Linked DNA regions of Homo sapiens: regions 1 and 3 are each linked to region 2. The links come from fine-mapping of genetic effects on plasma protein levels. A gene starts in region 2. Each other region holds a variant in brackets. All regions are shown on one strand. Distances are from middle to middle.

Region 1 (2,766 bases), 230 kb after region 2:
CTTTAGAGACTCAGAAGAGGGAGTTTGGGGAGGGGGCTAGGGATTGAAAACTACACATTATATACAATGTACACTACTTGGGTGATAGGTGCATTAAAATCTCAGAATTCACCACCATATAATTCATCCATGTAACAAAAAACCACTTGAACTCCAAAAAGCTATTGAAGTAAGAAATATTGTTAAAAGCCAAAAGAACAAATATTATAAAAATTAAAATGTCTAGCTGCAAAAAAAGTCATCTGGCAAGATTTGTACTAAATGGAATGAGATAATAGGAGGTGAAAGGAAAAGAGAGAGAAGAATGCTGGTGGGAATGAGAGTTGACGGGGAAAGGTTTGAGGGGAAATGGAATCTAGAGAATGAAAAGGAATTAACCCTGGATGTTGACATTACCACTCTTCAACTGATATGAGAAGGAAGAAACAAAGAACACATGTTCTACCCTTGTGTTGCTCACAACTCAAGGAGTAGCAGTGTGTATCTTGCTGAGGAGACATTACTCGGAGATCTCTAAATCTCACAGCATTTGAATACTATCCACCCCGACACCTGGTGTGGTTGCATGCGTGTGCATGTGTGTGTGCATTGGTGTGTTGTAGTGAGGGAAACTATCCTTCTCAATGAGATGTTACTATGAAAAAATGACATTTCTCATGAGGAAACCTGACAGCTTTGAAGGTATAGCATCTATGGGAGATTCTCAAACCAAACTTAGAGATTTTAAAACAGGGGCTACCAACTCAATGCCTACAAGGTTCAGATGGTTAATAATAACACCCACAGTGTATTGAGCACATATTATATGCAGGCACCAGTCTAAGCACTTTATATTCATAAGCTTATTTAACCCTCACAACAATCTTATGAGGTAGGTACTCTTAACCTTACAAGACAGGTAGAGCATTGAGGCACACAAAGGTACAGGAAATCACCACGGACACAGAGTTAGCAAATATGTAGAGATGGGTGTCGCATCCAGGAAGTTTGACTGAGAGCACATGCTTCTCAGGAATGAAGCCATATTGCCTCTCGGCAAAGAGATATAAACAAGGAAATGGTCTGGCCAGGGCCTACAGGAAAGAGAAGAACCTATGACTATGCTGGACCGAAGCAGCCATTACTTATGTTCAGCCCATTCCTGATGCACAAATGTGGGCCCAGTGTTCCCAGATCATAAGAGGAAGTTGCAATCTAAACTTATAAATAAAACTTCACAATTTTTAAACATTGGTGACTTATTTTTGAGTTCAAATATTATTG[A/G]CAAACATGTCAACAATTCAGATATGGCCCATGATGAGCCAGTGTGTGACCTCTGCTTTAAACAGAACTGTAGTCTGCTAAGGGTGTCCAAGATAAACAGGAGTATACATTCAAAACAGGAAGTTTGATAACTTCAGAAGCTTGATGTATGTGAAAACAGAATTTTTAAATGTACAATATAAGGGGTAAAAGTACACACATTAAGAAACAAGCAACCTAACAAATATGCATCAGGAAGAAAACTTGGTAATAGCCCAATACAAAGAGAAAAGGAAGACATTTTAAAATAACAAACACCACCAACAAGAATGCTGGGCTGCTGCACTGACAAGGACAGTTGAGATGAGACATCACTCTCCAAGAAAGTTAAATGTGATCTGGAAGAATACATCTCTTGCTGTGAAAATCCTGTCCCACTTACATCAGACATACTGTATTCAGTGAGACATTAACAAGTAAACAGCAAATCCACATCTCACAGGGCCATTGGAAGAAGATGGGGAAAAACGCAGATCGATGTGGGCCTAAATACATCCCATCTTTAATTATTTTAAAACTCTATCAGACTTTCTCCCAGGCAGATGCAACCAGGAAATGTAAATGGTTCTAGAAATCATTACCAAAATTTTTTTATTCTTAGTAATGTTGAATACTTTCCATCTATTTATTTGACATTTGAGTCATTATTTTGTGAATAATCTTTTCTTATCCTTTGCCCATTTATCTATTTAAAATACCATTTTGACTATTGAGTTATTATAGCAATTCTTTTAAATGGCATCATGTAATACAAGTTATCATGCAGTGAAACTGGCATTCGCACCCATGACTGACACTTTGGAAAGCAATTTGATACGTGTGTCAAGACAGTTTTACATCTTTTTACTTGATAATATCACTTTTGGGAATCTATGCTAACAAATTCACCTGAGACACAGAAAATAATGTTTTATGAACAAAGATATTCAACATAAGAGGTATTTATAAGAGTGCAAAACTGAAAACACAGTAGGTAATCTCATTCATTTTTTAAAAAAATAGCACAGGAAATGCTTAAAATATCTCATAAAAGAGGAAAGAAAAAGGATGTTCAGATCTATTACCGTGGCTGTGCAAATACACATAGAAAGATGACTAGAAGGAAAATATAAAACTATCAACAGATAGGATTATGGATGATTATTTTCTACTCTAATACATTTTTCATATTCTCTTCAATGAATGTGTATCATTTTTAATCACACGCCATTATCTAACATGAAACCTGAAATGCCATAATTAGATGCATTTATTTACATCTTGAAAAATTTGATAATCAACTCACATATAAGGCCAGGCACAGTGGCCCACACCTGTAATCCCAACAGTTTGGGAGGCTGAATGGGGAGGAGTTTTAGACCAGCCTGGGCAACATGGTAAGATCCCATCTCTACAAAAAAATTAAAAATCAGGCATATGGTGTGCACCTGTGGTCCCTGCTACTCAGGAGGCTGAGATGGGAGG
Region 2 (2,730 bases):
CTCTTGAGGTGCCGATAATATATTTCTTGATCTGTGTGCTAGCTCACAAGTGCTCACTTAGAAAAACTGCATTAGGCACTTACCACTTGCACAATTCTCTATGTGTTATATTTTAATAAAGGTTTACTTTTTTAAAAGCACTCCATAGTATCTCTAGCGATGAAGTTATACACACACACACATACATACATATATATTTTAACATACTTATGGGTAGATTCCTATCCAACTTACCTGTTCTTTAGTGTCTTTACTATTTATTTACTTATTTATGTTTCTGTATCCTAGGAACTAAGTAGAAGACTACCTAGCCTTCTATTCATTATTTGTGGGTTGGAGGTTGAAGTTCAAACATTTACTCAAACACATCCAAAACACATATGTGGCTTAAATATGGCTTTTCCTAGCCTTGCATAAATGTCTGATTCATATCTTGATGTACTCTACACTCTAGTGTCATAGAGAAAATAAGTCATTGGTCATAGAAAAACCTACATGCAAATCTTATTAACTTGATCAAAACCTAAGCTTAAAAAAAAAGCTAAGTCACAGAGATTCCTTTCTTTTCCAAATAACATTTTAAACACAATTTTTAGCCCTATTTAGTGAACTTCAATTCTTTAGATATGTTTTAGAACATAACATACTGCCAATATTCTCCACAGTATATTGAAGTTGAGAAGTGAAATAATTTTAACAATAAAATTTTATTAAAACATTACACAGTTAAGAAGTGTGTGTGTGAGAGATCTTTTCTCCTAATTATTCAAAATTTCACATAATATTTACATTAGAAAAATCTATCATGTCATATTCTAATTATAATGGTTTTAAGAAGACTAACGTCTTCTTCCAACTTACTCTGAATCTAAGGGACCACTTCTTTGCCACTAATAATAAAAGTTCAAGTTCATTAAGCAAAGATAGTATGGACTACATGAGGGCGTTAATATTCTGAGATGAAGACAGAAGGTTAATGACTAAAACTTTCAAACAAGTTTCTCTCTCTCTCTCTCTCTCCCTCTCTCTCGCTGTCTGTCTCTCTCTTGCTGTCTTCCATAAAGTCAGCAGGAACTTTGCAGCGTAAAAGGACACCCTAGGGGAAGCATGGCATAACTTGAAAGCGGTTTCCTGCTCCAGCCTAACCCCAAGCCTCTCCTGGGAGGGAGCGAGTGGAGCCTTCTCCCCGCCGGTCCGCTGGGAGGTTGGGAGACCAGGTGGCAGCAGCCTCCCCAGGCGCCGGGCACCCGTCGGCTGGCCCAGGGACTTACCACGAGCGCGCAGCACAGCAAGTTGTTCATTGTGGTCCCCGGAAACCTCAGGGGCTTGGAGGCGGCGGCTGGGCGAGCGCTCCGGTGCGTCTCCGCAGCCCGTGCGCTCATCACGTTATATATAGCGTCCCGGCAACAGGAAGTATCGCCTGCCTTTGATCAGTCATTTTTCTATCCTGGACCAAACTTTGCACCTTTCTTTTTTAGGAAGCTTGGGCGGGAGCGGTCGGGGGGTGTGCAGAAAGCTCCAGGGTTAACGCTTTCAGGGCTGGGGCGGAAAGGATCCCCCAGGGAGGTGGGGCGTGAGGGGTGGGGCGGTGGTGTCTGGCCCCTGGGAGAGCAGGGGAAAAAAAAGCCACCGGGCTGAGGAACAAGGCGGCTGCTGTCTCCGCGGGGCTCTGAGGTTTCCCGGCCCCTTCCCGCCAGCGGCCAGCCTCCTGGCAGCCGGGACCAGCGGTGGGAGGGCTGGGCACACGCTGGGCAGCTGCTGTGCTTGTGTCTCCTCCACCCTGAGAGTCCGATCCAGCCAAGATCCGGACGCAGTTGGAGTGTGTCCCAGACCTTTGTCCTCTCGCTGGGCGAAAGCTGTGAGTTTCCGCCGTACCCGGCTGCCTGACCCCTTCACTTCGGGTTCTGAAACCTCAAATTACAGGGCCCCTCTTTATGCATGGCATTGTCTGAGCCCTTTTCGGGGAGTTCGCAATCATTCATCTTCAAGTTTACATAAACCATGTAGTAGGAATTTTTCTAACTAATGTCTGATTGGCCCTAAAGCCCGTGCTATTCTGCATTCACTCCTTGTTATCTGGGGTAGTTAGAGCCAGAGAGAATCTGCAGAGTGAAAATTGGACTGCCTGGGGCAGGGATAACCTTGCGGAGCACTGTTCCCTTCACCAACCCCACCATCATCAAAGGGCTATTGGTATCGGAGCTTCCTACGCGCTGAACTTCTGGAGTAGCCTCCTCGAGGTCTTTCCACTAGCCTCAAGCTATCGACAGAAGTTTGGCACTTTGCTCTAGGGTTCGCTGTCTCCCCCATTAATTCCCTGGTCTAGAAGTTAGACTTGATGACTTGTAAAGTGTGGTCCCATTCATGGATTACAGTTCGCGGGTTGCCACTGAAATTGTTTACAGATGGCTGAAAAAGTCCCTGCAGAGCTGCTTCCCCATCAGGGCCAAGTGTTCAAGTTATATGTCTCCAGAGAAGGGCAAATACTGCCTTTCACCAGATTCAAGGGAAGGAAGGTGAAGAATCAGGAGAGGGGACCCCTGGGGAGCAAGGATGGCTTACCAGGATCAGAGCATCTGCCCCTTCCAAGGGACATCCTTCCACCACGAGTTCAAAGTGGATCCACAGACTGTTCCATCCTGCAAATTACAGAAGACGGGGTGTCATTCAGCTTTGTCCCTCAAGGGCCAGAATGTAACAGCATGCTGGTTTCTTAAGTGAACTAGTGAA
Region 3 (2,766 bases), 140 kb after region 2:
GAAATAGAGCAATACGAGTTTCCATCTCCTAGAATTGCTATGATGACTAGATGTCAAGTCCTTAGCTTGTGCTTGGCTGACTTTATAATTGCTCAATAGACATTCACTGTTAACTTTAGCTAGAAAAATGTAATCTACAGGAGGATCACTTGAGTCCAGGAGGTTAAGGCTGCAATGAACTGTGTTCACACCACTGCACTCCAGCCTGGGTGACAGAGAAAGACACTGTCAGAAAGAGAGAAAAAGAGAGAGAAGGAAGGAATAGTGGGAAGGAAGGAGAGTGGGAAGGAAAGGAAGGGAAGGAGGGAGGGAGGGAAAGAGAGAGAGAAAGAAAAAAGAAAGAGAAAGAAAAGAAAGAAAGAAGAAGAAAAAAATTTCATCTAGTTCACTCAATTCTTACCTCTGGTCTGACCACAGATATCACCTGTGCATTCTTTTCTGAAAGCCATCCTAGGAGGCATCTATAGCTTCCCTTGTAAAGTATTTCAATGTTTGATCAATCTCACACCTGGAAATCCAACTCTTCCATACATTGTCCTTGCTTTCACTTAAAATTTCAACATTCTGCACTCAGAAAAAAATAAAAAGAGACAATCTCTGGTCGTGTTTTTTCCTGGATAAATCAATGAACATCACAAGTTACTCTCGCTCAAACTGTCTCATCCCAAGAACTTCATTTTTGTCTTTAGAAGGTTTTGATTTTCCTCCTTTCATCTGCTGATGGACAGGGCTCTTTCATGCCCTGAGATTGCTGTGGTGATAATGCAGGTATCTGGTCATAATATCGTGTGTGTTGTGTTCTTTGTTTTCAAAGCACATTCACGTGCTCACCTTGTTGATCCGAAAACAACTGAGTGAGGCCTGGAGAGCAGATACTATCCCCACATTTAGGAAAGGAAGCATAAAGGAAAGAAAAACAGCAGCCATCATTGCTAAGCACTGATTGTATCCCAGGTGTTCTATGTCTGTTGTCTCATTTGAACTTCCTGAAAGCCCACTCCAGTAGGTGTTATCAGATCAATTTGCTGGAGAGAAAAGTGAGACTCAGAGAGGGAAGTTCTGTA[CT/C]CAAATTTCTCCAGATAGTGAGTGGTGGAGCTGAGACTTCAGTCAAATCTCTCCTAGTCCAAAGCCAATAAACTCAATCACCGGCCTGTTGAAGATTTGTTCAAACCATCAGTGACTAACATGGCATTAAAATCCAAGACTCCTGATTCTCAGTCTGGGCATTGTTCATTAAACCATTCATTCAATCTTTAATTCTTCAAGGTGCTGGAGCTACAGTTGCCTATGATTAAGACAGTTGCCACTCATGGAAAACTGCTTTGTGGCTTCTCCATTCCTAGTCTCCTATTCTTAGCTTCCTAGGTCATGCCTACAATTTTGGAGTTCTCAAGCATGCAGTCAGAGAGTAATAAGTTATGTGTGCCTCTGTGTGTGTGTGTGTGCGTGTGTGTTTGTGTAAATTTTATGTTTATTGTCCATCCAGAATTTGCTAGATTCTACAGCAAGAATAAAGATTTGTCAGGCCAAACATCACAATTCAGCAACAAGAATATTTCTTCAAACATAGAGTTGGATGTGGAGAAAAGTAAAAAATATACTGGAAGTTTCTTCCTTTCACCTGATTGTCAAGTGCATGTGAACATACATCCATACTCACAGCTGGATTGTGAGGCAAGCGCTGAGCTGAGGGAAAGATTGTAACCATGTCCACCTTACCCTGGGAGAATGTGCTCATGTTACTGTTTGAGATGCTTCACTCTATCTCATTTTCTGTTTCAAAAGGAGATGATGGTGAAAAAGGAGATCCAGGAGAAGAGGGAAAGCATGGCAAAGTGGGACGCATGGGGCCGAAAGGTAACTAAAATGATGTGAAACTGACATTTTAATATCATAATTGTTCTTCTATCTCTCCTGGCCCTTGCCCTGGAAATTAGCAGCTTTCATAATGCCCTCTGCCCCAACAATGCCTGAAATATATTTCACACATGAATTAACTCGCCATCTGAATGCCCCTCTGAGATTACCTGTCAACAAGACTCTCATATGTTTCTCAAGTTGCATTCTTTAGGGCTGGCTGGTGTGGGACACTGGGAGCCCCAGGGAAAAGCACTGTCTGAGAATATTTAAGAAACGATGTGTTATAGTGCTGTGTTCATAGCTGTGTCTCCCTTCTAAAGCCACTGCTAAGCAGCATTTTTTTTTTAAGCTGGCATAGAGCTTAAGGAGGAAGATAAAAAGAAACAAAAAGGGCTACCTGATTCATTGATCTATTCACCTTTCCCCAAGATCTCTTTATTTCTTTAATTCCCTCCTTTGTTATATACAAAAGAATAACACACTGGAGAAATGGTGGGGTACGGGAGGAGTGGAATCAAAGATGAAGAGAGTAACACAGATATGATTAGGAAGTGTCTTCACTCACAAAGTTGGGAGTTGGCCTCACCAAAATATAACTTCTAGGTTGTGATGTGTATGTGTGCACCTTCTGAACACTTGAAATATTTCTTGCCAACTGCTACAAGAGGGCTGCCCTAGACCACTTATTTTAAAATCTTGAATAGTTTAAAAGAAAGAGAGACTCACAGACCTGTGAGACCTCAATTTGGGAAATGCTGACTTAAACCTATGTATACATATGCATGTCGATTACAAGATTATTCTTACAAAATAAAGATTTTTAATTGGCAAATATTTTTTAGACTTTTATAAAAAGAAATAGCATTGGAAGAGCTCAGTGATTCCTAACCATAGTTTTTTGAATGA

Which allele goes with the higher level. Alleles are on the strand shown, and positions count from the first base shown. The strength of an association depends on the size of the effect and on how common the allele is.
For the plasma level of the protein whose gene starts at base 1,365 in region 2, allele A in region 1 goes with a lower level than allele G (moderate association).
In carriers of allele C in region 3, the plasma level of the protein whose gene starts at base 1,365 in region 2 tends to be higher than with CT alone (moderate association).

Evidence for each region. PIP is the posterior inclusion probability: the model's chance that the variant is causal. Protein levels are from antibody-based Olink assays in UK Biobank. Linkage for the fine-mapping came from a reference panel and not from the study's own genotypes, which makes the PIPs less certain.
Region 1: its variant is fine-mapped to the plasma level of the TNFRSF11B protein (UK Biobank, PIP above 0.99).
Region 3: its variant is fine-mapped to the plasma level of the TNFRSF11B protein (UK Biobank, PIP above 0.99).

The regions. Positions count from the first base shown.
Region 1 is chr8:119,184,361-119,187,126 of GRCh38, forward strand. All of the region lies in intron 2 of LOC105375725 (a long non-coding RNA gene), which reads left to right. Among named protein-coding and RNA genes, the nearest start is that of MAL2, 23 kb to the right of the region's middle. The variant A/G (reference allele first, on the strand shown) is at 1,264.
Region 2 is chr8:118,950,521-118,953,250 of GRCh38, forward strand. It overlaps TNFRSF11B (TNF receptor superfamily member 11b), which reads right to left and starts at 1,365. Exons shown (of 5, transcript NM_002546.4): 1 at 1,272-1,365. The coding sequence starts at 1,301. It also overlaps a transcript of COLEC10 not described here.
Region 3 is chr8:119,087,895-119,090,660 of GRCh38, forward strand. It overlaps COLEC10 (collectin subfamily member 10), which reads left to right. Exons shown (of 6, transcript NM_006438.5): 2 at 1,786-1,857. Among named protein-coding and RNA genes, the nearest start is that of COLEC10, 22 kb to the left of the region's middle. The variant CT/C (reference allele first, on the strand shown) is at 1,065.